Regions from separate parts of the Homo sapiens genome. Here region 1 is linked to region 2. The links come from fine-mapping of genetic effects on gene expression. A gene starts in region 2. The other region holds a variant in brackets. All regions are shown on one strand. Distances are between the middles of the regions. Region 1 holds the start of AKIP1 (A-kinase interacting protein 1). Region 2 holds the start of DENND2B (DENN domain containing 2B).

Region 1 (13,868 bases), 99 kb before region 2:
AAGGGAGAGATGGGAACGACTCTTCCCCACATGTACCTAAGTGCACCCTTTAGGGTCAGGTGCGTTTAGGTAAGAGTTCAGGCTAGGCCAGAAAAGGGGGCTCAGGACTCAAGCTCTGGCACCACTACTCACCTCCCAGGCCAGGGGAGGCATGTGGGAGGTGCTTCGAGTGTGCACTCAGCCCTTGCTCATGTCCCTGTGCCCACTCTCCCATCCTTTTCCTAAACTTCCTCCCTCTAACACCCCAAAATGGCTGACAGACCAAAGAAGTCAGGAATCCAACTTAGACTCTGGAATAGACTCTGGACTTCAGTTTGCTATCTTTGAGTACAAGTAGGGTAGGTTAAAACAAAAGCAAAAACCTAGTCTCCTCAGAAACCACCACCACCACCTCCTCCTTTGAATCAGTTCAATAAGCAGAATCTTTGGCTTCCCCAGAATGACATGTGGTAAAAGGTAAGTTTGTAGTGAGAGGCCCGTAACTGTTATTACCTTTACAAAAAGTATTTTGTTAAAAGAGACCCCCGTCCCCACACTTCCCTTGTACTTTCTTTTTAAAAATTATGAAAGACAGGGGCCAGGCATGGTGGCTCACGCCTGTAATCTCAGCACTTTGGGAGGCTGAGGCAGGCAGATCACCTGAGGTCAGGAGTTCAAGACCTGCCTGGCCAACACGGTGAAACTCTGTCTCTATTAAAAAATACAAAAATGGGTCAGGCGCGGTGGGTTACACCTGTAATCCCAGCACTTTGGGAGGCCGAGGCAGGCGGATCACGAGGTCGGGAGATCGAGACCATCCTGGCTAACACAGCGAAACCCCGTCTCCACTAAAAATACAAAAAATTAGCCAGGCGTGGTGGCAACGCCTGTAGTCCCAGCTACTCGGGGCTGAGGCAGAAGAATGGCGTGAACCAGGGAGGCAGAGCTTGCAGTGAGCTGAGATTGTGCCACTGCACTCCAGCCCGGGCAACAGAGCAAGACTGTGACTCCACAAAAAAAAAAAAAAAAAAAGAAAGAAAAATACAAAAATTAGCTGGGCTGGTGGTGTGTGCACGTAGTCCCAGCTACTTGGGAGGCTGAGGCAGAATTGTCTGAACCTGGGAGGCAGAAGTTGCAGTGAGCCGCGATCGCACCACTGCACTCCACCTTGGGTGACAGAGTGAGACTCCCTCTCAAAAAAAAAAAAAAATTACCAAAGACATGACAGTTATCACCTTATAGTAAAAAATGTAATTATTAAAAATCTTTTCCCCCAGCCTGGGCAACATAGCAAAACCCCATCTCTATTAAAAACATTAAAAATTAGCTGGGTGTGGTGGCATGTGCCTGTAGTCCCAGCTACTTGGGAGGTTCAGGTGGGAGGATCACCTGCCCAGGAAGTCAAGGCTGCAGTAAGCCATGATTGCTCCACTGCACTCTAGCCTGGGTGACAGAGTAAGACCCTGTCTCAAAAAAAAAAAAAAAAAAAAAAAGAAAAAAAAAATCCTATCCCTAGATGTAGAAGAGGATATTTAGAGCTCTTTTAAAAAAAAATTAGAGAAAGGGTCTATGTTGCCCAGGATAGAATGCAGGGGATAGTCACAGGGGCGATCATTGCATACACCACATTCCAGGCTTGGAAGCTCTTTTCTTTAAACCTGCTGGAGAATCCCATGGCCCAGGACTGCAGGTTCAACTAAAGATCCTACAGTGGCATCAATCTTATATTTTTGACAACCTCCTATTTCATGTTCATTGCTGTAAGTTCTCTAAGGCTATGAATTTACACATTTCTGTTAAGCACTGTAATGCCAAGTCACACGGGCATCCAGTGACACAAAGTCTAGCAGGGGCTCTTGAATATAGGGTGTCATATCTTGGTAGACTGAAGGCATGGTGCAGGACAGTTGAGTACACTTACCTGACCATTCCCTATGTCCAAGCACATGTGCAGCTTCGACTCGCCTCTGTGATAACGATAGACATGGGTTGCCCCTCCTTCCTCTGGCACAGATGAATAATATTTCTAGAGACGTAATGTCAAAGATGTTAGCTAACCAAATTGTCTTGTCAAATTTTCAAAAAACCCTGATATTTGGGCAAAGTGCAGTTAAGGAGGGAGGCAAGAGAGCAAAGGTGAATTACCTGCCCTCTTGACAGGCCTCTGAAGTCATGCAACAAACCTTAGCCCACCCAAAGTGGCTGCAGAGAAAGAAATGCATTTGGCATCCCCGTGCTGCCACCTGCTGCCTCCATAGGGCAAGAACGCTGGCTAACTAAAGGTGGGCAGGACCATGCTCTCTGCCAGGTTAAACAAATTTCACATCTTTGCCCCCATGTCCAATGCACATATCCTTTCATTTCCTCCCCTAAAAAATGTGGATGAACGGTTCCATGTTTATTGTCTAAGTCTCAGACCAGGACACGGGAAGAGAGGGGTACATTTTCCTGAGATTTAGAAACACAGCAGGAAATGAAACAAACCCAAGAGCTGCTCTGCAGCCCTTTTCTCTGTGCTTCCTGCGCGTGGGGGAGTGGAGGGAGAAGTCTCTAATTTAAGAAGAATCTTCCGAAAGATCGGAAAACAGTTACATTTCTCTTGTCTGCTTCCTTCCTCCCCCTCAAAGTTAGCCTTAGACTTGCCCTTGATAATGACTAATGACATCACAGCCCTGCTTGTTTTGAACAGGGTAGGCACACTGTCTAAAAAACATGTGACCAGAAGAACGAGAAGCTGGGGAAAGCACTTGAGGACACAGACCTAAAGATGTGTTTTAGTGGCTGCTTCAAACTGTGGAGACAAACCCAGTACACAATTCTTAATTCTATCTCTAGAAAGCCAAGAGGTTCTGAGGCTCCATTTCATAACAGAGACTTGAACTGAAGCATGAACTGAAAACAAAAATGAAGAACAGCAATTTGCTAAACCTCAAACCAAAGACAAATATTATTCCTTTTGCTGAACCATGAACCAAGGGTTTAATCACTTTACAGTAGAGTTGAGGCTATTGATTTTTGTAAAACCACTGAACAACACAAATAAGATAAAAATATTCCCTGAAGTATTCCTCTTTGGTTGGAATCCTATTCTTGGAGTCAGGGATTCTTATAAAAGATGTAGAAAGATTAGAGTTTTTTGAGATCTTAACATATGAAACTGAAAAGCAGGGCAGAAACAAGGTATTCTCTTCCATCTCCTTTGTGGATCAGCCTCCTTAAAACCATGTAGGACTCACCAAGTGTTAAGACTGCATGAGGCCAGAGCCTGCTGTAATTCCTAGAAGACAGTGCCTTCCATGCAGGTAATTTCCTTGAATGTTTTCTGGCCTGCCCTCAACATTCCCTAAGTATCGAAAGATGACTTGGCTGGGTATGGTGGCTCAAGCCTGTAATCCCAGCACTTTGGGAGGCCAAGATGCGCGGATCCCTCGAGGTCAGGCGTTCCAGAGCAGCCTGGCCAACATGGTGAAGCCCTGTCTCTACTAAAAATACAAAAATTAGCCAGGCATGGTGGCATGTGCCTGTAGTCCCAGCTACTCGGGAGGCTGAGGCAGGAGAATCGCTTGAACCAGGAGGCCAGGAGGTAGGGGTTGCAGTGAGCCGAGACTGAGCCACTGCACACCAGCCTGGGTGATGGAGTGAGACTCTGTCTCAATTAAAAAAAAAAAAAAAAGGTCGGGCACGGTGGCTCACACCTGTAATCCCAGCACTTTGGGAGGCTGAGGCGGGCGGATCACGAGGTCAGGAGATGGAGACCATCCTGGGTAACACAGTGAAACCCCGTCTCTACTAAAAATACAAAAAAAAAAATTAGCTGGGCGTGGTGGTGGGCGCCTGTAGTCCCAGCTACTAGGGAGGCTGAGGCAGGAGAATGGTGTGAACCCAGGAGGGAGAGCTTGCAGTGAGCCGAGATCACACCACTGCACTCCAGCCTGTGCCACAGAGCAAGCCTCTGTCTCAAAAAAAAAAAAAAAAAAAAAGTTAAAAAAAACCCCTAATATTTAACTTATTTGCTATGAAATTCGGCAAATAAGCTATTTTCCCCCCACTAGACTGAAAGATCACTGAGGGCAGAAGACCTTTTCTGACTTTTCATTGCTATATTGTCAGCTACAGGGTTAGGCATTCAATAAACATTTATTGGGTGAATTCTAACTTGGATTTACCCCCTGGTTTAAGTCCTTGACTGATTACAATCTGACCGTGAAGGCTGGGCAGGAGAAACAGGTAGTGTCCAGATTCTCCGTAAATTCCAGAAAGATCCAAATGTGGTCCATCAGCAGGTGATGGGGCATAGTTTTGGTTCACACCAACTTACCCCACACTGACTTGAAGTATAGTCCATGAATTCAGCCATTGTTCTGAAGGAAGCACTAAGGGTTGGGGGTCTCTCTTCTCTCTATTTGAATAAATGGCACGTCACAGGTTAGCTCTAGGATTCCCTACTGGAGAATGAAGCCATTTTGGAAATAGTCTCCTTTTTACTTTTGGAAAGGCTCTGCAAGTTTATGTCAGAAAGAACGATGTTATTGAGAAAGAATTCCAACTCTAAAAGATAGACATGCAATTTATCCAGGATCTAAGAGACAGGCTTGCAGGCTTTCCTCTACTATCAGATGATAGCTGTAAGATTTTTTTTTTTTTTTTTTTTTTGAGACGGAGGTTTCGCTCTTGTTGCCCAGGCTGGAGTGCAATGGCGCGATCTCGGCTCACCGCGACCTCCGCCTCCCGGGTTCAAGCGATTCTCCTGCCTCAGCCTCCCTAGTACCTGGGATTACAGACATGCGCCACCACGCCCGGCTAATTTTGTATTTTTAGTAGAGACGGGATTTCTCCATGTTGGTCAGGCTGCTTTCGAACTCCCGACCTCAGGTGATCCGCCCGCCTCGGCCTCCCAAAGTGCTGGGATTGCAGGCATGAGCCACCGCGCCCGGCTAATTTTTTTTTTTTTTTTTAAGTAACCAACCAGGGCTGAACACTACCGTTATTCTACAGCTACCCAACAAGAATCTGTCAAATGTAAAGCGTTTTGAAAGGACTTTTCCATTCATTGTTCTGATCCTTTCCAGCTTCCGCTAAGGGAAGGTTTCCTCAGCTGCTTCTGCGCTGCGCACCCCTGGCTCCCAGCGGGCTACCGCGGCGCGAAGGACTGGGGCGGCCCCCGGCACAGCGACCCTCACCTCTCCCGGGAGAACGCGCTGCGGGCCGGCTGCCGGCTGTTTCTCTAGGTGGGGCGCCTCCCGGGCAAGGACCCCCATGCAGCCTTTGGGACGCTCCAGGGCATGCCAGTCCACCGCCCTCCTCTTGGCCCTCTCCAGCACTTCTAGAGCCAGCCTTGCTGAACGCTGCAGGGAACGTCGGTCCACCCCATTCAGCGCTGCGGCCGCCAAACAGTTGTCCATGGCTCCCTGAGTGGGCACACAACGTACAAACGCCGGCGGGTCAGCTGGGCCGCGGCGACCCTGCTCCAAATCCGGGTGGGAGCCCCAGCCTCGACCTCCCTGGAGACCACCGCTCCTGGTCCGCCCCCAACGCACACTCCAGCGGGAGCCCAGCCAGGACTAGGCCTAGCGCGCCCGCCCCTTCCATTTTCATCTACCCCTTCCGCTACTTAGGGAGCCCCCTCACCCGGCTCACTCGTCAAGGCGCATGCGCGCAACGCTATTCTAGGAAGAGGGACCAGGCCTAGCGCTCCCGGCGGCGCCGGCGCAGCTGGGCCATTGGCGGAAGGCGGGAGAGGCGGGAGAGGCGGGAGAAGTGGGGGAGGCGGGGCGGCTGGGCGGCCAAACACGCCTTCTGCGTCCCAGCCTTGGCGTCTGCGCGCGAGTTGCCTGGTTAACTGCTGAGCGCTGGAGGCGGGGCGCCGGGCGCTGGGGGCCGGGGGTCGGGGGTCGGGGGCCGGGGGTCGGGGGTCGGGGGCTGGGGGCTGAGGACTGAGTCGAGCCAGCAGCCCAGGGCATCTGTCCACGCTGTCAGAGGAGCCTCTGGGCGTGGGGCTGGCCCTTAGAGGGCTACTGCGCTGCTTAACTTGGTGGGTATAAAGGCAGGTCTCCTGTTGAGCTAAAAAATTATGGGGTACCAGCTAGGTAGGCAACATAGCGAGAACCCGTGTAGACACACACACACACACACACACACACACTAGCCAGGAGTGGTTATGGGGTACCAGCTAGGTAGGCAACATAGCGACAACCCGTGTCCACACACACACACACACACTAGCCAGGAGTGGTTATGGGGTACCAGCTAGGTAGGCAACATAGCGACAACCCGTGTCCACACACACACACAGTAGGAGGAGTGGTGGCGCGCATCTGTAGTCCCAGGTACTCGGGAGGGTCGAGGTGGGAGGATCGCTTGAACCC[G/A]GGAAGCGGAGGTTGCAGTGAGACGAGATCGCGCCACTGCACTCCAGCCTGGGCGACAGAGGAAGACTTCGTCTCAAAACAAAAACATCATGGGGAATAAGGCAAGTGCCTCCCGCGCCTCTTTCTGCTTGGTCTACATTTTGGGGTGTCGCTACTCTTGTTTGAGGAGGTGATTAGGCCAAACTGTGTGGCTGCCAAGGTGGCCTTTGGAGAAGGGAACAGCTCGGGATTGAGGCGAGACGGAGGCGGGGCTGTCTGCAGATGTTCCTGGCCCCCGGGGCAGGGGGCGCCTGAGAAGTTGTAGGGTCTCTCATAATCCCTCAGCGCAGCTCTCTCTCCCCTCCAGTGGGAAGTACGGATTCACATATTTTTGGAGACCTGTTCTCTTGGGGTCTGACTCCATCTTTTAGGAAGACTGCACCATGTTTAAGTAAGGAACTGTGAATGCTTACTTAAACCATGTTTAAGTAAGGACCTGTCACTCCACTCCGCTGGTTATTTGGTAGGAGATACAGCCCAGGCTCTCACTGCTAATTAGTGACTCAGCCGCACCACCCAGCGCAAAGCAAAGCGCCGATGCTTAGGAAGGTCCACTTTGAGGGACACGCTCAGTGGGGGTCACTTTAAGGAACACAAATAAATCCTCCTTTAAGTCTCCTCTGTGGTTCATGAAAAAGGAGAGAAACTCCATCCTCACCTAGTCTCAACAGATGGCTTGATGAGCAATTATCAGGTACCAGGTGAGTAGTAGCCGACCAATACGACCTCCTTCTATGCTACTTAACTTTTGCAAATTTCCTGCTTTCCCCTTATAAAAAAGAATAACAGTGAGTGAAACCCTACATTATTCTTGAGATGATTTTTTTTTCATTTTATTGGTATTCCAAAACATTTCCTTCAATAAGGGTTTATCAAGTGCCTCCTTTAGAACATAGTGGTTGTACGTGCATGGGGTCCTGTATATCCACTCGGGAGAGCTGGTTTGAATTCTGGCTCTGCCATCTTTTTTTTTCCATTTCTTCTCCTTCTCCTTCTCCTTCTCCTTCTTCCTCCTCCTCCTCCTTCCTCTTCCTCTTCTTCCTCTTCTTCCTTCTTCCTTCTTCTTCTTTTTTGTTTAATAAAGAAACGAGGGTATCACCCTGTCAGCCAGGCTGAAGTGCAGTGGCACGATCTCGGCTCACTGCAGCCTCGACCTCCTGGGCTCAAGCGATCCTCTTCTTCAGCCACCACGCCCTGCAAATTTTTTAAATGTTTCGTAGAGACAGGGTCTCCCTATGTTGCCCAGGCTCTCTGCCACTTTTTTGCTCTGTGGTTCTGGGCAAACATATTACTTCTTTGAGCCTCACTTTTCCTCATCTCTATATCTGGGGATTCCAATAGTACTAACTTCTTTAGACTGAGCTTCTTGAGGGAAGGGACTGTATCTGTAGTGTTTAGAGTTTAAGGTGCATCTAGTATTTACTATTTTGTCTGTCACAGTAAGGACTAAAAATAGCCCTTGAATGTGTGAATTGGGTTGCCATTAGGATTCTGTGAGATAATTCCTGTAAAATGCTTAGCACAGTGCCCGGCAAAGATAAGTGCTCCATAGACTTAGCTAGCATTAGTATGTGCCAGGCACTGCCCTAGGAGTTGTGGAGAACAGAATGTGGATCAGACTAAAGGAGAATAAAAAAGAGGAAAGAATGCACATAAAATCTATAATACCAAGAACAAAATATTCGGACATGCCATAAGATTGACACAGATAAAATGCTATCAAGCTTAGGAGACTATGTTCAGCTGGGAGGATCAAGAAAGGTTTTGCAGAGAATGTAGTTTTCAAGCTAGGCCTGATGGCCTAGGAATCAGTGAGAGAAGAGGTAGATAAGATACCCGTTAACTGCTTTTACAATAAGTGTGGTTGGAGTGGGACAGAATTTGGTCCTCTTTATTTTTTATGGATTTCAAGGTTTTAGCACATTCCTCATAGGGTTATTGTGAATATCAAGTAAGTTAATATCTATAAAGTGCATTTATAGTACTTGGTACATAGTAGGTGCTCAATAAATATTAGCTAGTATTATTATCTTAAGCTTCAGCCTGGTCTCCCAAAATATGCTCTCACTTACCCAGTATCATAGCCACACCTCATCTCATTTGTCTCTCTTCCCCATTCTATTTTAGTCATTCCAGTTGAGGCACTACTTTCTTTTTGTCAGGTCAGCTCTTTGAAACTTTTCCCAGTGGTTCCCAGTTGCCACCTCTGTTGCCATAGCCTTAAAAAAATTTTTTGTGTGTACTTTTCCAATCTAATTTAAATTATGTGTAGTTATGGTTTCTTCTCTCCCAATAGCCTTTCAATTCCTTGAAGGCAGAAACTGTTCCTTATTTGTCCCTAAACATTCCAGGACCTGTTAAGTAGCGGGTGTTCAGTAGCCATTTGTTGAAATTACTCTGATTTAATTTTTAAGTTAAATAGACTTCTGTTAGCCCACATAAAGAGGTGGCTTTGTGGTGGCTCACACCTGTAATCCCAGAAGTTCAGGAGGTTGAGGTGGAAGGATTACTTGAGGCCAGGAGTTTGACAGCAGCCTGGGCAACATAGTGAGACCCCTGTCTCTATTTTTTAAAAAATTAAAAAACTAGCCTGGCATGGTGGCTCATACCTGTAGTCCTAGCTACTCGGGAGGTTGAGATGGGAGGATTGCTTGAGTCCAGGATGTTGAGGCTGCAGTGAGCTATGATCGTGCCACTGCCCTCCAGCCGGGGCAACAGAGTAAGAACCTATCTTAAGAAAAAAAAGAGTTGGCTTTTCTATTAAAAAAACACCTACCTACATGAACTTTAATGAATGTAATGAATATTCAATTGTAACTACATTTTCTCAGAATTTAACATTTAGAAATTTATGGGAAAGAAGATGCTTGAAATGAAACTGAAACCAAAAGACTCTAAATTAAATCTTTGCATTTGTTTTTATTTTTCTATTTGTAAATATATTTGTAAATATATTTTTATATGTGCATATTTATAATTTTAAAGATTCATCCTGTAAACCACAGATTGAGAGACTTGAGAGATTCCTTTTTATCTTTTTTAAGATTGGCTGGGAATAATGATAGAACATGACCTACCATCAGGCCCCTTGTGGATCAAATATAGCCCACGCCAAATGAAAGCCACTGGTGAGAACTGAAAATGGAATTGTAAATGGAGAGAGGGCAACTAATTAGGAATGTGCCTGGTCAACAGGGAAATAGACTGTCAGTATTGACAGAAAAATAAACTATTGATATGAGTTTTTAATGACTTCTATCTTCACAAGGGTAAATTCACTAATGAGAACAGATGAAAGTTAGTTGTCAGGGTTCTATGTTTTGGAGGAGATGCGTTGGAAGAGGTCTTTAATTGTGAAATGGGGAAAGAGACTGGTGCTGTATTTGGGACTTTTTGAGGAGAAAAAACAAGTCCAGTGAAGAGCAATGTAAATTCCTTTTCTTTATGTGAAGGGGGCCAAAAAGGGTTAAAAACCCAGGATGCAAAAGTGGGTACTGTGCCAGAGTTAGACAGTGATTTATACTGTACATACCAGAAACTGTATAAATCATTTTATTTGACAAATGGTATTGTTATTTCTCCAGCAGACTTAAGAGCTTTGGAATCATCACAGCTTTGTAAGGTAGTATTACAGACTGAGTCATTAGATCATTCATTTTGCCTGATTACATCATCTCACTGGGTTATTGGGGGAATGAAAGAAACTCATTATCAAAATTGTCATCTTGATGATGTAGATTAAAGAAAATGAATCAAACTTCTGAGAATTAACTTTCACAATCTGTTTAAAATTGACTGGGAGTTAAAAAAATTGGTTGCAGAGCAGGAATGATTGAAATCTTGTCATTTTTAAAAGTCAGAGATCAAAGGAATAGTATTTGGAAGATATTTAATATAAACAGTTGAAATTTATGTAGAGTTTTTTTTTTTTTTTTTTTGAAGACTTCTTGGCTGGGCGCGGTGGCTCACACCTGTAATCCCAGCACTTTGGGAGGCTGAGATGGGCAGATCACGAGGCCAGGAGATTGAGACCATCCTGGCTAACACGGTGAAACCCCATCTCTATTAAAAATACAAAAAATTAGCTGGGCGTGGTGGCAGGAGCCTGTAGTCCCAGGGGAGGCTGAGGCAGGAGAACGGCGTGAACCTGAGAGGCAGAGCTTGCAGTGAGCCAAGGTCGCGCCACTGCACCCCAGCCTGGGTGACAGAGCGAGACTCCATCTCAAAAAAAAAAAAAAAAAAGAAAAAAAAGACTTCTTTATTGAGGTATAATGTACATATGATAAAATTTACCTGTCTTAAGTGTATATTTCAGTATTTTTTGTAAATTTACAGAGTTGTCAACATCACCAAAGTGCAGTTTTGGAACACTGTCATTACCTGAGAAAAATCCCTAGTGTATACCATATGCAGTCAGTTCTCAGCTCCTGCCTCTGGTCCTAGGTGACCAGTCTTCTGCTTGCTGTCTTATGAATTCGCCTTTTCTGGACAATTCATATAGATGGAATCTGATAATATGTGACCTTTTTTTGCCTGGCTTCTTTTAATTAGCATAATGTTTTTGAGGCTCACACATGTCGTAGCATGTATCAATACTTCATTCTTTTTTATGACTGAATACTATCCCGTTATATGAATATATTACATTTTGTTTATCCATTTACTGGTTGATGGTCATCTGAAATGTTTCTGGTTTGGGGCTATTTTGACTGATAATGCATAGTAAGACTTTGTGTGGACACATGTTTTCATTTCTCTTGGGAATACAGACTTGAGCCGCCGCACCCACACCAGATGTATGATTCATAAGTATTTTCTCCCAGGCTGTGTCATGTATTTCATTTTCTTAGTGGTGTAATTTGAAGTACTAACATTTAAAGTTTTGATGAACTCCAACTTATTAATTTTTTTCCTTTATAAATTGTGCTTTTGGTGTTATATCTAAGAAATCTTTGCCTAACCTAAGGTCATGAAAATTTTTTTTGAAGATTTTTTCTATGTTTCCTCCTAATAGTTGTATATTTTAGTTTTTACATTTAACTCTATGCCATTTTGCATTAATTTTTATGTGCATTATGAGGTAAGGGTCTAGATTCATTTCTTTTCATGCAGATGTTCAATTTTCTCAGTATCATTTGTATAAAAGACTATCCTTTTCTCATTAAATTCCCTTGGCAACTTTGTCAAAAATCAATTCACCATAAATGTAAGAGTTAGCTTTTAGACTTTAAATTATGTTCTATTGATCTATATGTCTGTCCTTATGCCATATTATACTGTATTGATTATTGTAGTTTTGTAGTAAGTTTGGAAATTGGGAAGTATATCAACTATGTTCTTCATTTTCAAAATTATTTTTATATTCTAGTACAGTCATTATTTCCATAAAATTTAAATTCAGTTTGTCAACTTCTGTGTAACAACTGTTGATGTTTTGATAGAGATTATATTGAATTCACAGATTAATTGAGGAAGAATTGCAATCTTAACAATATTGGGTTTTTGAATTTATGAACATGGAATGTCTGTCCATTTATTTCAGTTTTCTTTATTTTTTTTACTAATATTGTGTAGTGATTAGTGTACATATTGCACTTCTTTTAACAAATTTATTAAGTATTTTTATGCTGTTGTGAATGAAATTGTTTTCTCAATTTCATTTTCAGATGAAATTATTACTAGTGTATAGAAATATAGTTGACTTTTTCATATTGATATTGTATCCTGTAACCTTGTTAAACTCATTTACTTGTTCTAAGAATTTTTTTGTGGATTCTTTAGGATTTTCTGTATACTGGATCAGATCTTCTGTGAATAAAGAAAGGCTAACTTTTTTCTTTTCAATCAGGACTTCTTTTTCTTGCCTAATCGCACTGGCTTGAACCTGTAGTACAATGTTGAATAGAAGTGGCAAGGGGAACATCTTTGCCTTGTTCCCAATTTTAGAGGCAGAACATTCAGCCTTTTACCATTAAGTATGATATTTGTTTTTTTGTAGATACTCTTTATTAGGTTAAGGAAGTTCTCATCTATCTTTAAAAATTATTTTTAATTAGCTTCTTCAGGTTGAGAAGAAGTTTCCTTCTATTCCTGGTTTAGTGAAAGTTTTTATCATGAATGATTTTTGAAGTTTTTCAGACGTTTTTTGTATGTCCATTGATGTGATCATGTGGTTTTTATTTTTTATTCTATTAACATGTGTTGAATGAATTGATTTTTGGATATTAAGCCAATCTTTCGTTGTTGAATTTGGTTTGCTAGTATTTTACTGAGGATTTTTCTGTGTATATTCATGAGGGATATTGATCTCTAGTTTTCTTGTTTCTGGTCTTTGTGTCTTTTGGTATTAGGATAATATTGGCCTTATAGAATGATTTAGGAATGTTCTATTTCTTGGAAGAGTGTGTAGAATTGGTATTATTCTTAAGCATTTGATTAAAACCATCTGGGCCTGGGCTTTACTTTGTGGGAAGATTTTTAATTACTAATTCAACTTTTTTCCTTGTTTTAGGTCTACTTATATTTTCTATTCCTTCTTTTTTTTTTTTTTTTTTTTTTGAGACAAGGTCTCACTCCTGTTGCCAAGGCTGGAGTGCCGTGGCATAATCACAGCTCACTACAGCCTCAACTCCCTGGGCTCAGGTGATTCTCCCACCTTAGCCACTCGAGTAGCTGGGACTACAGGCATGCATCACCACTAGGCCCACCTAATTTTTTTGGTACTTTTTGTAGTAGAGATGTGGTTTTGCCATGTTGCCCAGGCTGGTCTTGAACTCCTGAACTCAAGTGATCTTCTATTCCATCTTGAGTCAGTTTCAATACTTGGTGTCTAAGAATTTGCCCAGTCACTTAAGTTGTCTAATTTGTTGACAAAAAGCTATTGGTAATATTCCCTCACAATCTTTTTTATTTCTTTAAGATCTGATTATGGTAATCTGTGCCTTCTCTCTCTTGCTTTTTTTTTTTTTTTTTTAACATCTTGGTCAGTCTAGTTAAAGTTTTGTCAACTTGTAATATCCTTTTTTTTTCTTTTGAGACAGTCTCACTCTGTCACCCAGGCTGGAATGCAGTAGTGCAATCTCAGCTCACTACAATCTCCGCCTCCCAGGTTCAAGTGATTGATTCTTCTGCCTAATCCACCCAAGTAACAGGGATTACAGGTGCATGCCACCACACCCGACTAATTTTTGTATATTTAGTAGAGACAGGGTTTCACCATGTTGGCCTATGCTGGAGTGAAACTCTGTCTCAAAAAATAAATAAATAAATAAAACTTTAAAAAATACAGATGGCCAGGTGTGGTGGCTCATGCCTGTAATCCCAGCACTTTGGGAAGCCAAGGTGGGTGGATCATGAGGTCAAGAGATCGAGACCATCCTGTCCAACATGGTGAAGCCCCATCTCTACTAAAAATACAAAAATTAGCTGGGTGTGGTGGCGCATGCCTGTAGTCTCAGCTACTCAGGAGGCTGAGGCAGGAGAATT
Region 2 (17,076 bases):
AGTAATATAAAAGTATTAAAAACTTAAAAAAAGTTTGTCCATATACCACTTATAATCATCTTGTATACACACCCCATCTTGGACACTCTGGACTACTGTGAGGTGTTAAGCATCAAATGGTCTAGGTTCTGTGGTGACATTATTAATACCCTTTTTAGTTGGATTGATTAGTTGGTTGGTTTTATTAGTTCATTCATTTAAAAATTTATTAATTGTACGTGGTACACAGCCCTAAGCTAGAATTCAGAGTTAAGACATAGTTCTTTCTCTAAAGAATATTACAGCTAGCAGGAGAATTAAGCTGAATGAGCTTTGGTGCAGTCACACAAGGCAGTGGGGCATGGCTGGCATTGGAGTGGCAGCCTGTTCTGAGGAGTACTGGGGGGTAGGGCTAGAGAATCAGTCTAGCCGGGGAGAATGAGGGGAGCTAGGATTGAGGAGGTTGGCACAGTCTGGGCTCACACTTCCTACAGCCTTGCCCAGATCTTACTCTTAGGGGTACTTCTTTCCCAGGCTGAAGGTATTTTCTTGGGTAGATCATAGAAAAGCAGCTTGAGTCCACATTCCTCTTAATACCCTACCTCTTCCCTTTCCCTCCACTTTGCACCTTGCCTCCGCAATCCTGAAGATTTTAATCATGGTAGGTTAAGGTCATTGTTGAACTCAGAGTTCTGAGCTAGCTAAGCTTGGAAAGCCTATTATTATTATTATTATTATTAGAGACAGAGTCTCACTGTGTTGCCCAGGCTGGAGTACGGTGGTGTGATCTCAGCTCACTGCAACCCCCACCTCCCAGGTTTCAACTGATTCTCCCACCTTAGCCTCCTGAGTAGCTGGGATTACAGGCGCCTGCCACCATGCCTGGCTAGTTTGTGTATTTTTAGTAGAGACGGAGTTTTGCCGTGTTGGCCAGGCTGGTCTCAAACTCCTGACCTCAAGTGATCTGCCAGCCTTGGCCTCCCAAAGTGCTGGGATTACAGGTGTGAGCCACCACGCCCGGCCAGAAAGCCTATTTTAGAAGGGTAAAATGGTGCTTTCATGGGGATCTAGGGTATTGCTTCCTTGATCCAGTCTTTCCTGGCTGGAAGCCTATGTTTATGTGGCCCAGTGTTAACATGCTCCGACTTAATAAGGGACAGTGGTCAGGGGCCTGTGGATTTGAGAGATTTCAGAAAATTGGCTTATATATTAACGTTATCACAGAGACTCCAAGAAACTGAAGCAAGCTGTGAGTACCTATGTTGTGAGTATCTGGACATTGAGCTTTATACGGAGGGTTGTGAGCTGAGCGGAGGTGAACTAGGGCTGGATGACTGGCAGACTGAAGGAGAGGGGGCGCAACCTAGCATGAAGGTGTGTGGTAGCTGCTTCACTGCAGGGCTGTGGGGTCTAGAAGAATTATAGACTGAATTCCACACTTCCCTAGTTCAGAGCCTTAAGGTCAGGGGTGGGGTGCTGGTGGTAGGAGAGGCAGGGGGAATTAGGTCAGGAGTAAGGACCTGGGAAAACTTCCTATCATAAAACACTAGGACTTGACCACAGAATGGGTATTTCTCTGCCTTCCTAGGAAGGCTGTGCAAGCAAAGTTTGTGTGGCAGTGGTCAACACTGTGCAGGTCCTGCCAGATGTGGCTTCCAGGTGGAGGGGGCCCAGGATTGCCATCTTGAGGAAGACATTTGTTTTGTTGATCTGAAGGCCCTCATAGCACCCAGGTAGAGAATGCTTGATTTGCAGTAGACAGATTGTCTTCCAAGAGAACTTAGGTATTGTCAGCTGTTCAATGTCTGCTTTGTAAAGGCAACTTTGTCTCAGACTTATGGATAGGGGTGAGTCTGAGCAAGGACCTCAGCAGGAGCCTTAGTCCTCTTCCAGGCCATTTCCTAATTTCCCCATTCTGTAATTTAGCACCTTTCTTCTCTGTCCAGCCCTCCTTAGGCAGGAAGCCTGAGTCTTCCATTTTTTTTCTTCTAAAAAAGGCTACTGTTCATTGGTGATGGACCTCTGTCTGATCCCAAAGCCCCAAGCCCGGGGCTCTGCTGAAAGGAGTCTTTCTGCTGCTTTGGACTTAGAAAGCAGTAGGACTGGGTGACTGCGTAGAATGATGCAGTAGGACAGTCAAGCCGAAGGATGCTTGAACAGCTAGTCCAGCCCTCTCATGTGGAGGAAAAAGCAAAGGCCCCTAAGGGAGACAGGGACTTGCCTAGGATTTTACCATTCCAGAAAGCTGGAAGCCAGGACTGGGCTCCAGCCTGCTAGCTGTCTACTCTTGAATTTTAAAAGCTTCCCTCTTGACCACATTGCCATTCACAGGCAGAAGAGGAAAACTGTAAAGCCCTTAAGGGCTCTTCTATAAATGGCAGCTAGAACCCAGTGTAGGAGAATTGGTGGAGAGGAATATGTTTGATTCCCCCCACCTTTTTTTTTTTTTTTTGAGACACAGTTTTGCTCTGTCACCCAGGCTGTAGTGCAGTGATGCGATGATGTCTCTCTGCAGCCTTAACCTCCCAGGCTCAAGCGATCCTCCCATTTCAGCCTCCCAAGTAACTGAGACCACAAGCGTGTGCCACTATGCCCAGCCAATTTTTTAAAATTATTATTTGTAAAGATAGGGTTTCCTTATGTTGCCCAGGCTAGTCTTGAACTCCTGGGCTCAAGCAATTCTCCCACCCCAGCCTCCCAGAGTGCTGGGATTACAGGTGTGAGCCACTGCACTTGACCTGATCACCCATTAATTTGGTAGAACTGGATGTTTTCAGTGGGAATACCACTGGACCCCAGTCTGGGGGGCATTAGAAACTAGGCTTCCCAGAGGCATTTGAAATTAGACTGCCATTTCTTAGGCATTCTAAGATCCAACCAATAATATTGAAAGAACAGCCCATTTTACTTGAATTTCTTTGATCCCAAAGTAAGGAATGACTTGAAAAGATTTACTCTGTTCCTGTGTTTTCAGGTTCAGAATTTCAGTTGTCTTTAAAGAGACAAGAAAGTACTATAAACCCCTCTAGTGACCTAATCCAAAATCCGATTTACATATATGTATTTTCTTGTACAATGTAGGTCCATCCACTCAAATTCCCTCACCTTAAGAGAGGAAATAGCTGTTTCTGTTTGTTTGTTTGGAGAGTCTTTTCAATGATTCGTTTATCTCACACACACTTATTGCATACATTGAATGAAATACTAAAGTGGATACACCTCGAGGAGCTCAGGTCTGTGGGGGAGACAGGTGTGCAAGTAACAGTGATAAAGTGATATCAACGCTATAGTAAAGGCATCTTTAAACTGCTGTTGATTTGCAGAAGAGACAAACAGATTCTATCAGGAGATTGAAAAATATTTTACAGAGGAGGTGATAAATGAGTTGGACCTTGAAGGCAGTAAGATTTTGTTAGTGGGGGAAGGAGAGGCATTCAGATAAAGGTAACAGCATGAGCCATAGAGGGAGGGAGAGGAAAATGCAGGCAGTGTTCAAAGAACCAGGCAGTGCACTGTGGTTGTGCCTGTAATCGGGTGGTTGGTAGCAGGGGAGGTGTGGGCAAGAGATGAAGCCAGAGGATTTCAGATTTGGGTGGGAGCGTAGGCCAGAAGAGGGAACGTTGGATGTAGTCACACTGCTGTTGGTGTTACTTAGACCTTCATTTTTCCACCAGACTGTAGTGTTCAAAATTCTTTTTAGTAAGAGAACCCTTTTTTTCTGAACTTTTTACAACCATCTCCAAATTATGAAACATAAGACTTTTTTTTTTAGTAAAAATGTATTTTTTTACAAGCACAGTGTCTTGCACCATGGAGGGGAGAGGAGGTGTTTTGTCCTTGGAGCTGCTGGCCTGAGAGAACCTTGTCATCGTGGGAGCTGGGCCATTCCTACACAGTGGTCTGGCAATGACCCGGTGGTGGTGGAGGCCTGTGAGTGGGCACTGGTAATGGGAGCAGCTGTAAAACCCTGGAGGGCAGCCCCAGGAGAGTGACCTTACCAGGAAAGTTCTGGGAAACAAACCACAGGGAGGCTTTACAGGAATTTTTGGTTGTGCCCACAGGCAAGGCACATGAGGAAAAGAAATGTAATTATAGTTTGTAAGTCGATGAAAAGAGGCAATGAGTGACATGAAATAGCTGCTCTAAGTTTCTTCTTCCTGTCGGACAGGAAGAAATGGGGTTTTATGCATTTCATTCAGCAGATATTTATTGAGTGCCAGCTGTGAGCTGGGCCCTGCACAAAGTGCAGGGAATATTGGTGGTTAGCAAAATAGTCAAGGTTCGTATCCTAAGGAACTCTTCTGAGGGAAGACTGAGATTAAGCAGATAACTGTATAAATGCATAATTACACAGCATGGTGAGTGCTCTGAAGGATAAGTGTGGGGAGCCTCATTTAGATTGGAGGATTGTGAAAGTCAAGAGACAGGAGAGTCAAGGTGAGGCAAGGTGAGTAAGAGCTATCCAGGCAAAGACTGCTTGGTAGGGGAGTGTCCCAGCAACGGGAAACAACCTGGAAAAAATATGACACCTCAGGGGAACTAAAAGCAGTTGTATGTGGCTGATGCACAGACAGGGAAGGGCAGGAAGTGTGCTGAAAGAAGGCAGGAGGAGAATCATGCTGGGCCTTGTAGGTCCTGGTAAGAAGTTAGATTTTATCTTAAGTGTAGTGGGAAGTCAATGAAGTGTGTTAAGCAGGAAATGACCTGATCTGGTGTTAAAAAAAAAAAAAAAAAAGGTGATTCAGACAGCTCTAATGACTTTGTGAGGGGAGAGTGGAAGCTGGGGCAATTAGGAGGTTTTTGCAATAATTAAGGTGAGAGATGGGTAGCATCAGAGGTGGAGAAAAGTGGACAGATAAAAGATATATTTTGGAAGTAGAATTGTTTGCAGTTGGGAAATGGGTTGGATGTGGGCAGAAATAAGAAGGGAGAGTTGAGGATGTCTCCCAGGTTTCTGGCACATGTATGCTTGCAGGCCTCTCAGTAGACAGCAGAGAGCTTATATAAGGTTGTCAAATCCTTATCCTTCAGAAGGGTCAGGTAGGATTGGTCTAAATCCAGCCTTGCAGAGGCAGTGGTGGGATTCAGCTGTCCCTGACTCTGCCCAGTTCAAGGAGTGTGTACACAGTAGCATTACCCAAGCAGGGATTCCAGTTCTCTCAGTAATGGGGCCCTTCCTTTGTCCCTTCCCCCAGGACAAGGCCCTAAGGAACCTCCATAACTCCAGCATGCCACTAGGGGGAGCATGGCCCGCATTCTGGGTCTGGTTTGGAGGGCTTCTTAAGTTTGGATTACTTCAGGAACTGACTTGTATCAGTTCTAGTACTCAGTCCTGACCCCTGGCCCCTCATACTGCTTAAAAGAATGCCTGGCATATGGTAGGTGCTCAACAAGTGTTAACTGATGTTACTACTGTATTATTAATATTATCTTATTATAGAAAGGGGTGGGATCACCCCTTCTTTCTCAGGATGGAGACTGGGCAAGTGGAATGTGCATTTTGAGGATCAGGAGGAGAGCAGAGGGATGCCTTTTGGACAAGGAAGAGGCGGAAATTTAGTGATTTGATGATACTGCATTTGCCCTTCTGTCTTGTCTTTCTTTGTCTTTCTTTGTAGACTTGGGATTCTTCAGCTGGGGCTTGGGTGGGGTTGGGGATTTATAGTGGGTGATTAGGTTCACTCCCTTTCAAGCTCTGATTGCTTCACTAAAGCAGTAGTGCCCCCCATTTAGGATTTGTGCCATTCTGTCATTTCCTGTTGGATTTTATAACACTTTCCTACCTTAACTTCTGGTATATATTTACCTTTTAAACTCAAGTCAATCAGAATCTTGTTTTGAGAATGTTGTGATATGCTGGAAATTAATGAAAAAAACCCACTAGATTCTGCATAGGATGTTGCATTAAAGATTCTATCAGGCTGGGTGTGGTAGTACACACCTATAATCCCAGCTACTCAGGAGTCTGAGGTGGGAGGATTGCTTGAGCTCAGGAGTTCAAGACCAGCCTGGGCAACATAATAAGACCTCGTGTCAATAAATAAATAAATAAATAACATCAGGACCTTTTTTTTGGGAGCACTGTTTTTGGGAGCAGCATTGGAAAATATCCTCCTTAAGCCTCAGTGTCCTCATCCTGGGGAGGGTATTAACTGTCCCAGTGTTTTTTGTTTGTTTTTGGTGAGGAGTTGTCAAGAGGAGTAAAGTTCTTAGTTCAGTTCCTGACTTGAGAGTGCTTTCACGGACAGCATCTCTTCCGATGCTCAGTCCCAGCCCTGTCAGTAGGCTCTGTAGGTGGAAAGGGGGAAGTCATGGGACTTGCCCAATGGCACATGGCCCGTTAGTGGTGGAGTCAGGCACTGCCAAGGTCTTCTGACCCCTGGTGCTGTTGCAACCACTGTGCTTAATGTACTCAAGAGACTTGAAAGGCTTGGGGATTGTTTCTAGATTTTATTTCCTGGTTCCATGACCTGGGGCAAGTAATTTTACTTCTGTTGTAGAATTAAAAAAAAAAAATCTGTTAAATTAGTATAATAATGCCAATCCTAACTTTCAGACCTGTCATGTTGAACAGACGAGCCAAGATTTTGAGAGTCGTTTAGAAAAGTGCAAGGTCACATATAGCTGTAGGGTAGGGCTTTTTCTCCGAGCTGTGCATCAGGACGTTTTACATCTTAGAGATGCTGTCTTAAGGTCTTTAGGCTGAAAGGATGGTAGTCAGCCTATCTCGCCACAACTTACAAGGATTCTCCACCTTCCCTTGGGAGCCCAGCGTTATCTCATAACCAGTTATCAAAAAGTTGACAGTTTTTGAAATCAGGTGGCAATATACTTTAGTTGAAAGTGTGCTGGACTAGGGCGAACTTGGCTGATCTCTTAGTTCTTTGACTGCCTAACTGTATAAGTGCAGATCAAATGTTTAATCTCTCTGAGTCTCAGTTTTTCCATCTATAAAATGGTCATAAGGCCAGTATGCTGGCTCACGCCTGTAATCCCAGCACTTTGAGAGGCTGAGGCAGGAGGATTGCGTGAAGCCAGGAGTTCAAAACCAGCCTGGGCAACATAGTGAGACCCTGTCTCTATAAAAATAAAAATTAAAAAAGTAGCCAGGCGTGGTGGTGCATGCCTGTAGTCCCAGCTACTTCAGAGGCTGAGGCAGGAGGGTTGTTTGAGCCCAGGAGTTTGATGATGTAGTGAGCTATGATTGCACCAATGCATTCCAGCTTGGGCAATGGAGCAAGATCCTGTCTCTAAAAGAAATTTAAGAAGAATAATAAATAAACTTGAAAAAATGGTCATAAAAATATCTGTGCAGTGTATTTCAAAAGGTTATGAGGATCAAACAAAATGATACATGTAAAAAGAATGTTACAAAGCAGAAATGTATGCTGGGTAGGGGGGAGAGGAAGGGACAGGATGGGGATGGGGATGGGACTAAACTTAGGGGGTCTGCCGTGTCCCAGGGACTGTGCTCATTTTCTGACAGGAGCAATATTATTACCGACTGTGACAGCAGCTCCCACTAAGCCTGCACCTTAGCTGCAGATCCTTAGCAGGGCAGAGAGACAAGGCTGTATTTGTATCAGGTTTGTCGTCTGGGTTGTGACTCTCGACTTGCCCAGGATTCTTCCTGGTCCTGACCGAGTTGTCTTTGCTCTCCATTTCAGGAAGATGAGAGACTGCTTAGGCGCCACCACTAGTACCATGAGTCCCTGCACTGGTTAAAGCCATCGCCACAACCTGGACAGGCAGCAAGGTAAGCAGAGAGGCCAGTCCAGGCGAGCTCCTGGGATGTGAGTGCATTTCCGCCCCAACTGCTGCCCGGAAAAATCCCAAGTGCACAAACAAGTCAAGGCAGCGCATCAGGGTCCCTCCTACCCGAGCTCCAGGACCCAGAGGAAGCTGGGTCCCCTTCAAGCGCTTCAGCTAGCTCCCTCCCCCCTGGCAGGGATTCTTCCAAGTTATAAAAAATGAGACACTGGAGGGGAAGAAAACAAGTCCACTCACTGTCTTCTCCCTTCTCCCCTCTGAGCTGTTCAAGCAAGTTCCCAGGAGCAGTTCAGAGCCCCTGTTGGACTGGAAGGGAGGTAGGAGGAGTGGAATGCATGCAAAAACCGAGCTGATCAAAAGACAGTGCTGTTTCATGGAAGCCTCCCAGAACTGAGAGAGAGAGAGAGAGAGAGAGAGAGAGAGAGACAGTGAGAAAGAAAGAAAAAGAGAGCGCCCTTGTGCACGCGCTAGGCCAAGAGCGCGCCGCTGTGCGCGCGCCCGCCTAGCGAGGACAGGGTCTCCATGACAACCGGCCTGGCCGGCTAGCAGTGCTCTGCTCACTTGGCTGCGAGGAGCGCCACGAAAGGTCAGAGGAAGGAGCTGTGGGAAGCTCGCAGCAGGTATCGGAGCTTAAGCCAGTGGATTTGGGGGCCCTGGGCTCCCTAGCCGGCTGCGGTGTGAGAATGGAGTGGGCAGGAAAGCAGCGGGACTTTCAGGTAAGGGCAGCTCCGGGCTGGGATCATTTGGCCTCCTTTCCTGGCCCTTCTCTCCGGCTGTTTTCTGGGAGTCAGGCGAGTGTCTGTAGTCTCTGCTCGGGGTTTGGGGCTCAGGAATGATGTCATGCTCCAACAGTTGGATTCTATTAGCTTAAGGAGGAGGGAAACAGCCAATTTTCTTGACTTTGCAAATCTAGCTGATCTCACTCTTGCTGAATCTGAGGTGTTTAGACTTCACTCTAAAAAGCATCATTTTACTTTTATTTAGCACAAAGGCACAGGATATTTTTACAGGAAGAATCTTTTATATGGAAAAATCTGAGTTAACATCACTCCCGTGGTGTTTGTAGTTCTTACAGGGAAACTCCAGTGCCTTTTGAGCCGCTTGTTCGTCCTAGTGAACACTGTCTGTTTTGTCTCTTGGTGCTGCTATGTCTGACCTGTAATGGAAAAAAAAAAAAAAAAAAGGCTAATTAAGCTCAGCCAGGAGCCTGTGGTGAGTTCCAAGTCCCTCTAGAGCATTTATTAGGACAGAGGGACTGTCACAGGGATGCCTGAGCTGGGGTTTTGCACTCTCTCTCTTCCAGGCAGCTTGGTAAGAATCAAGCTGTCCTCCCACATCAAAAGGTCGATCACAGACTTTCCTAAGAGGTGGAGGAGGGGGCTGGCTTGGGGTTGGGGGGCCTGCAAACAGGTTTCTCATCCAGATGTCCCAGAGTGAGCTCTCAGCAGCAGCTGCTAAGAGCTGGGGAACATGAGGCACTGTAGTTGTGCCGGGTGGATTCCTTTGGTTACATTTTGACCAAATCTCAGGGCACGCAGTGTCCACGCTGTGCACTCCTACACTGATTGTCCTAAGTTTTGGTAAAACTTGTTCTGACCTAGAGGAGTGGTACATGGTGAGCTGTGTGGCCTTGGAAAGGAGACCCTCCCAGAAAGGCAGTTTTATAGGTGATAGGGTAGTGGGGTTGTCAGTAATATTATGAGGAGGATGAATGCAGCAAACACTTCCTGCAACGGAGACCCATCAGGGGTTGTGCTTCCACTTGAGCCATGTTATGTCTTAAATTCACTTCTTGGCCTCAGGGAACTTTGCAAATGCCTTTGGTTTCTCTGTGGGATGAGGGAACAGCTGCTGTCCTGGTTCTTCAGTTTTTCTTCTTGAACTTTCTGAACAGAATGTCTTTTGTATTCTGGCAAACAATGAGGGGGCATTCTGATTAACTTCGGATCAGCTTGCCAATGCAAGCACTGGCCATGTCCCCAGTTCCGGCTCCCTAAAATGAGTACATGTATACATCGTGGTTGTGGCCTGAGGGTCCACAAGGGTGAACTCCATGGCCCTGGACCTCAGACGGTCCACTTCTGAAGTTATTCCTCTTGCTACATACACTCCAGGGATCCTTTGCTTAGTTGAAACCTACATTTTGCTGGAGGGATGTGGCATAACACTGAGCCAGTGGCCCCTTCAGTTGGCAGTGTAAATCCAGAACCTCAGCCTTCTTTTCTACTTGTGTGTGTAGTTGGAGCTCTTCAATTTTACCATCCCCACATCTGTGAAGAGGGCTAGCAGAGACCCAGTTTCAGGAGCTGCTGCTCCTTCTGTTGGTATAGCAGAAAGAATAATGGATTTGGGTTGCTAGACTTGAGTCGACGGCTAGATTCTGTTCCCATAGGGCGGCCACGGGCAAGTATCTTAACTAATAGGAGCTTCAGATTCTTACCTGTGAGATGGAGGTAATAAGAACAACTTCACAGGACTGTTGGGAGGAGCCAGTGGGATAACTTCCATGAAAGTAGTTTGAAACAAGTCACGTCCTATCTAACGAACCGTGTTGTGAATTGAAGCTTGAGGAATGACCCAACTCTCTCTGGAAAGTCACTTTGCCTCTCTGTTCTGGTTCTCTCATTTTATAAAGTGCCTTCTTCCTTTCTGCATTTATAAGTAAACATGAGAAAAATCTGAAAAGACTTCTTCAGGATGTTTAAGGAAACAAATGTTGCTTTCCTTGGGTTGGGTCGTTTCATAAGAGTGATGTTTGCCATAAAACTGGAGCCTCATAGACGATCCTGCAGGGAGGAAGCTTTCCTTGGTCACCTGACTCATGTGTTTATATATAGTATAGAGGAGAGGTATTCCAAAAGACCCGTCGCTTTTCCTGTGTCCCACAGCTGCCTGTAGAGTTGTGGCACCATAAACTTTAGCAGCTGGAAAAGAGGCCAGGCCTGGTTCCCTCATCCTGCTGGGTCCTGCTGGGCACACTCTGCAGTGGGCAAAGGGGTCTTTCTCCTTCATTCTGGGTTTAGAAGGCAGGGTTCTAACTGGGAGAAAGTGTTATTGCTCCGAAAGGCTTCTTGGGGGCTGGGCAGGTCTTTCAGGAACTCATAAGGCCACAGCTTATGGGGAAAGAAAAAGAAACAAGGAAGTGGGAATTCCAAGGGCAGAGATTCTTGATATGCCATGGGACTGTGCCAAGGAATGGAAGAGCAGGGGAAGGGAGACTCCAGGCAAGGAGAGTCCCAGGTCTGTCCTCATTGAGTCGAAAGGGCGTATGGCATACTAGAGCGCGTCACCCACAGCCCCAGCTTTACTGTAGGATGGGGAAGACCTGCCAGCCATATCCCGGAGTGGTGTCTGGGAAGAAGCCCTTGAGCAGACCCATAGTAGGCAGATTAAAAAAATGAAACAAAACAAGCAGCTCCCCTTCTAGTTGAGTCATGTCACAACAGCCTCTAAGGCCTGAAGGAGAAGCTGCCCACAGCTTAGATTGGGGCTGCAGCTGTTCCCCGACTCCCATCAGTCCGGCTTCCCAGAGCTGAGTCACAAATTGGATCTGTCTATGTTCCTTAAGGATTAAAAAGTAACATTCCTGTTCTCACTCCCTCTTTCCTCCTTCTACTCCGCTTCCTGTACCTTCTCCCCTTGGGCTCTCTCTCTCTCAAATTAGATATCAGTCACCCCGGGAAGATGAAACTTTGAAATACACTGGAGAACAGGCCAAGGACACCCTTGGTTCTGCTGGTTCAGCCTCTTTCCCTGGAATGAAGGGCGGGGTGTACAGATTCAGGAGGGCAATCCAAGTATCATGGCCCCACTGGTAGCCTAGACCTAAGAGAGGCTGTGCCCCACTCCCCACCGCATCTGATTCTAAGAACTGCATTACGGGAGGTCCACCTGGCACCTCAGGGAGATGGGAGGCTCTGAGGCCTGGGCCTTCTGAAGCACCTCCCTGTGGGGCAGTTGGGACTGAAGGATTGAAGAATACATCTTCCTTCCTGTCACTCCTCTTAGCTGTTAACTGTCATTGCCCTGGAAACGTCCCCATTTCCATCGTTGGGCCTAAGAGAGTCGGCCGAGGCAGCCAAGCCCGGGGAACACATAGTTGAGGCTGGAGGAGGCCTGGCAGCAGCCCTTCCGAGCCCTGGCTTGGCCTTCCTTCTGTGCCTCTGCATGGGCTTGGGAGGAGGGTGTGTTTAGGGCAGGCTGCGAGGAGGGGAAGGGGAAATCTGCAGGCAGATAATTGAGTTCTTTGAGTTGGAGGGACCATGGAAAGTGGAGAAGGGGCCAGGAGGGCATAGAGCGAAAAAAGAAAAAGAAAAAAAAAAAAGACCATCTGGCATAGTCTGCAGAGATTTGTCTTTAAAGCCTATGGGAAAACTTGCATTAGTGTGTGCCTTCTCCTGGGGAGGCAGGGGCTGGGGAGGCTAGGCATTTGTTTCATCCTGGAGGGGAGGTGCTATGTGTGTCTGTCTCAGTAGGTGGGTCGGAGGAACTACTGGGTGCATCTGTCTTAGAGGAATATGCCACGTAATATTGTGCTGATAGAAACACCTGAGCTCTCTATTTCTAGCCATAGGCCCCAGAAAGCTCTCCTGGGTGTGTGTGTGTGTGTGTGTGTGTGTGTGTGTGTTTTGAAGGGAGAGGAGGGTGTTAAATGAGTCTAGATTACCTTATTGAAGAATTTCTCCAAAGACCCCTTCTCTTATTTTTTTGGCTCTGATGTCATGAATGTACTGTTGTTGGGGAGGGTGTTGAAACTATCACTATACTCTTCTCATCTAAAACTGCCTGAATGTTAGATTTCACTGTCCTTATAAAAGAGTGAATTATATGCAGTTAGCGTATGAAGCCTTCTTAACCAAAGCAGACCTATTCCTACAGGCTTGTCACGAAACCACCACAGTTTCTCAAAGCTCCAGACTCTTCCTCTGTGTGACCTGTCATCACCAAAGGGGTTGTGTGTGAGCTGGAGATGGACTGTTGGAAATCACATAGTGGATGGAGGATTATTTGGAACTGGGAAAAAATGAGATAAACTGAGGGTTACGGGAGACAAGATCTGAGGCAGGAGGAAGACTACTGGAAGGAAGCAGGAGTGAGGCACTGGGCAAGGGGCCCTGGGCGGAGGCAGTTCTCAGGAGCAGCAGGTGGTAATCGAGAGAAGGGCTGACCTCGGAGGCCTACACAATTTAGCAGAAGGCCAGACTGCCCCCAGGGAGCTCAGGGTGACAGTGTCGTGCAGGCCCTCAGAAGCACTGGAGGGGGTAGGGGTGGCTGGCATTAGGGTTAACACCTCTGTTTGTTTGTTCTTGGCTCAGAGGTGTCTCTGGTGCCCATCTATGCAGTATTGGTCTGTTCACCCATTTAGTCAGTGAATACGGAGTGTCTGGGCCAAGAGCTGGGGAGGAACGCAGAAGTATCAAGTATGGGCCTTACTCCCATCTATGTCATGTTATAATAGACGTTGTGTTGTAGTTATTTCTTCCCCTCTCTCCCCCACTCTGTCTGTGTGATTAAGAGAGAAGCAGCATAGACCTGCTGCAGTTCTGAGTTTTGATGGTAGGGTTAATGACCATCTCATGCTCTTAGGCTGGGAAAAAGGAGGAGGGTCCAACAGACTGATTTCAAGCACGATTCGAATGAAGGAAGAGAGCCAACTGAAGGACTGGAAGTAGGAGGGTGAGGATTCTAGGCCTGTGTTGAAGCTTCTCTTGACAGTGTCAAAGGATGGTGTATGTGGGAGGGAGTCATAGGAAAGGGGAAATGGGAAAGTTGGAAAAAAACTATCAAGTCAGCTATTTTTAAAACTCTAGTTTTGTTCGAGGAACTGACTTTTGGTGTGCTTGTGACTTGGAACACAGGCTACCTTATGGAGTTCTGACAACTGAGTATTGTAGATGGTTTTAAAATGAACTAGCCTGTGGTGTGTTTGTTCAACTCTCAGTGACTCTTAGGTACTCAGTGAGTGCGTGGTGCTGCCTTAGAGCAATTCTGATGGAACCATTTGCATTTAATATGAGTATCTGACATGCATTGCAGTGCACTGCAGTGATGAACAGCTATAGCTCAGGGGTCTTAGAGGCCTAGCTTTAGAGCCTGACCTTGCTGTGTGACCTTGGGCAGGTTATTTAATCTCTCTGTGCATCAGCCTTCTTTGAGGCATCTGTAGAATGGATGTAATAGTACTTGACTTGATAGAGTTGTGGTAAGGATTAAATGAAATGATACCTGTAAATAGGCCAGTGCCTGGTACATAGTAAATGTCCAATGCTTTCCAGTATATTATTATCAACTTACAGCAGCATTTTGAAGAGAGTGGGCTGGTGTCTCTCAAACAGGTTGATGTTACTACGCTGGGAACAAACCAGATTCTTCTTTTAGAAGTAGCTGCTGGTTGGGCGCAGTGGCTCACGTCTGTAATCCCAGCGCTTTGGGAGGCCGAGGTGGGTGGATCACTTGAGGTCGGTGTTTGAGACCAGCCTGGCCAATATGGTAAAACCCTGTCTCTACTAAAAATACAAAAACTGGCCGGGCATAGTGGTGTGTATCAGTAATCCCAGCTACTCGGGAGGCTGAGGTAGGAGAACAGCTTGAACCTGGGAGGCGGAGGTTGCAGTGAGCTGAGATCGCACCACTGCACTCCAGCCTGGGCGACAGAGCAAGACTTCGTCTCAAAAAAAAAAAAAAAGAAGTAGCTGCTATTTTGCATCTCGTTCATCTTTCTGTCAAGACCCCAGGTAGTCTGGTCTGGGGTCTGTGCAGTCCTGGGTGTGTAATAATACAAGATTTCCTAATAACACAGGATTTCCTCCCCACCTCTCAAAGCTGCTTGTGTTCAGTTCCTGCCACTTGACAGACAGCTCCCCATGTCTTATGGCTGCTGCATCAGGCAGAATGATCAAAGAAAGGGCACAGGGAGCCATGGACAAGGTAGGGAGAGAAAGACAATTGCTTTGGAAAGTCACCAGCAGCCAAGGAGGACTGCCCTTTCAGACCTGGCCTACACGTTAGGAAGGTACTTGAGAGTGTCCTTTAAGAGGAAGGAGTAGGGGCCAATGAGATTTTGAGGACACGGCAGCCGCCCACACTGGAGAGGCCAGAAGTCCTGAGTCTGAGGTAGTCCTTGTCAACCCAGCTTCACAGGTTCAGCTCTTTCCTCCTGCTGTGGGATGCTCACTCCTCACAGACGGGGAGACCCGTCCATCCAGAACTGCTTCTCGCCTGCCCCTTTCCTGCTGGCCAGCCTAGGTGGAGCCCCTGAGGTCTTTCTCAGTGTGGTATTGGAGGCCCTTCACAAGCTGCTCTCAGTGCTCCAGACCCCGGCCTCTGCCTCAGCCCTCCTTACCCCTGCTTCCACAAATACTGCCCTTGTACCCTTCCAGATGCAGCTTAGAGCATAGAATAGGCTTTGCAGCCAGCTCTGAGGGTCCATAGTCTGGTTTTTCCTCTATCTGTGGACCTCTGGTGAGTTCATCTCTGTAAACCTCTGTTTTCATCTGTAAGTTGGGAGTGATAATATTACCCACCTCAAAGGGTTATTGTAAGGTTTCAATGTGTTAATTTATGTAAGGCACTCGACTTAGTTGTAGACACAAATATGCTCTCAATAAATGTTAGCTGCTGCTGTTGTTAATAATCCATCCTTCCTGTGAATTTCTCTGCCTACATATAGCGGTAGAAAGTCCCAGCCAGGTAGTCAGCAGGTCTGGATGTTAGTTCTGGTTCTGTCTCTAATTTGCTGGGTGATCTTGGGGAAGTAACTTGACTTCTCTAGGGTTCAGTCTCCTCTTCCAGAAAGTAGAAGGCATGGATTCAGTGTTCTCATTGACATCCTGACTTGACATTTTTTTTGAGACAGAGTCTCGCTCGGTCGCCCAGGCTGGAGTGCAGTGGCATGATCTTGGCTCACTGCAGCCTCCACCTCCCGGGTTCTAGCGATTCTCCTGCCTCAGCCTCCCCAGTAGCTGGGATTACAGATGTGCGCCACCACACCTGGCTAATTTTTGTATTTTTAGTAGAGACGGGGTTTCACCATGTTGGCCAGGCTGGTGGCCAACTCCTGCCCTCAAGTGATCTGCTTGCCTTGGCCTTCCAAAGTGCTGGGAGTACAGATGTGAGCCACCACACCTGGCCCTGACTTGACTTTTCAAATGTGTATATCTTGTGTTTTCAACTAGATTCCTTGAAGTTGTATGAAATCAAGTATAATATTTTATACTTTTTATTTCCCCAAATGGCTAACATATATAGTTGGTGCTTAAAAAATATTTGAGTAACTTTTCTTTAACCCCATCAACCAGATTCTAGGAAGCATTTTGACTTGGTTCTCAGAACTCGGAGGCTGGAAGCTTGTTCTCCAATGCGTAGGGCAGTACAAGGAGGCCTCAGCCTTTAGTAAGTAAGAAGGTAGGTTTCTCTTGGTGCCCTGGGAAAATTTTGGTTAACAGATGTTTGGGGTACTTATTTGTTTGGCTCTGTAGCCTTAGACCAGGTCTTTGAATAAATATTTCCATCACTGTTTCCTTTTCTCAGTGGCGAAAAATGCCAGTGTTTTCTGAGCAATCCCCTCTCCTTTAGAGTTTAGGGTGAGCCAGTTAGTGCCCAGACGCAAATCTGTGTCTTAGGGGAAGAGCCATCCAATAGGAGAGTAATGTTTAGAGCCTGGGCTCTGGGGTCAGATTGGGTTCAAATTCTGCCTCTGCCACCTAATAGCTCTGTAACCTTGGACAAGTTACTTGTCCGTGCCCTGGTTCCTCTTCCGTAAAATTGAGGCAGTGGTAGCATTATCTCATGGGGCTGTAACAAAGCCTAAATGCCAAATGTAAAGTGCCTAGAATAGTACTTCCTGCCTCCTTGCTGAACAAAATGTTTGCAGTTATTGTTTTGTTTATTATTCTCTTGTAAACCAAGTAGTGTTTAGTTCCTTTTTTTTTTTTCCAGACAGAGTCTCACTGTCGCCCAGGCTGGAGTGCAGTGGCACGATCTCGGCTCACTGCAACTTCCATCTCCTGGGTTCAAGTGATTCTCCTGCCTCAGCCTTCCAAGTAGCTGGGACTACAGGTGTGTACCACCACACCCAGCTAATTTTTGTATTTTTAGTATCGATGGGGTTTCGCCATATTAGCCACGCTGGTCTTGAACTCCTGATCTCAGGTGATACACCTGCCTAGGCCTCCCAAAGTGCTGGGATTATAGGTGTGAGCCACTGCACCCGGCCCTTTTTTTTTTTTTTTTTTTTTTCCCCAAGAGAGGGCCTTACTGTGTCACACAGGCTAGAGTGCAGTGGTGCGATATTGGCTCACTGCAACTTCTGCCTCCCTGGCTCAAGCG

Evidence for each region. PIP is the estimated chance that this variant, and not a neighbour inherited with it, causes the effect.
Region 1: its variant is fine-mapped to the expression of DENND2B in whole blood (TOPMed, PIP above 0.99).

Annotation. Positions count from the first base shown.
Region 1 is chr11:8,902,963-8,916,830 of GRCh38, reverse strand. It overlaps AKIP1 (A-kinase interacting protein 1), which reads right to left and starts at 5,642. Exons shown (of 6, transcript NM_020642.4): 1 at 5,608-5,642; 2 at 5,160-5,387; 3 at 4,298-4,378; 4 at 1,901-2,005. The coding sequence starts at 5,381. It also overlaps a transcript of DENND2B not described here. RefSeq lists enhancers at 5,338-5,427, 5,438-5,507 and a silencer at 5,598-5,877. The variant G/A (reference allele first, on the strand shown) is at 6,345.
Region 2 is chr11:8,801,906-8,818,981 of GRCh38, reverse strand. It overlaps DENND2B (DENN domain containing 2B), which reads left to right and starts at 8,308. Exons shown (of 20, transcript NM_213618.2): 1 at 8,308-8,465. It overlaps DENND2B-AS1 (DENND2B antisense RNA 1), which reads right to left. Exons shown (of 5, transcript NR_120590.1): 5 at 8,706-8,905. RefSeq lists enhancers at 12,385-12,884, 12,885-13,386.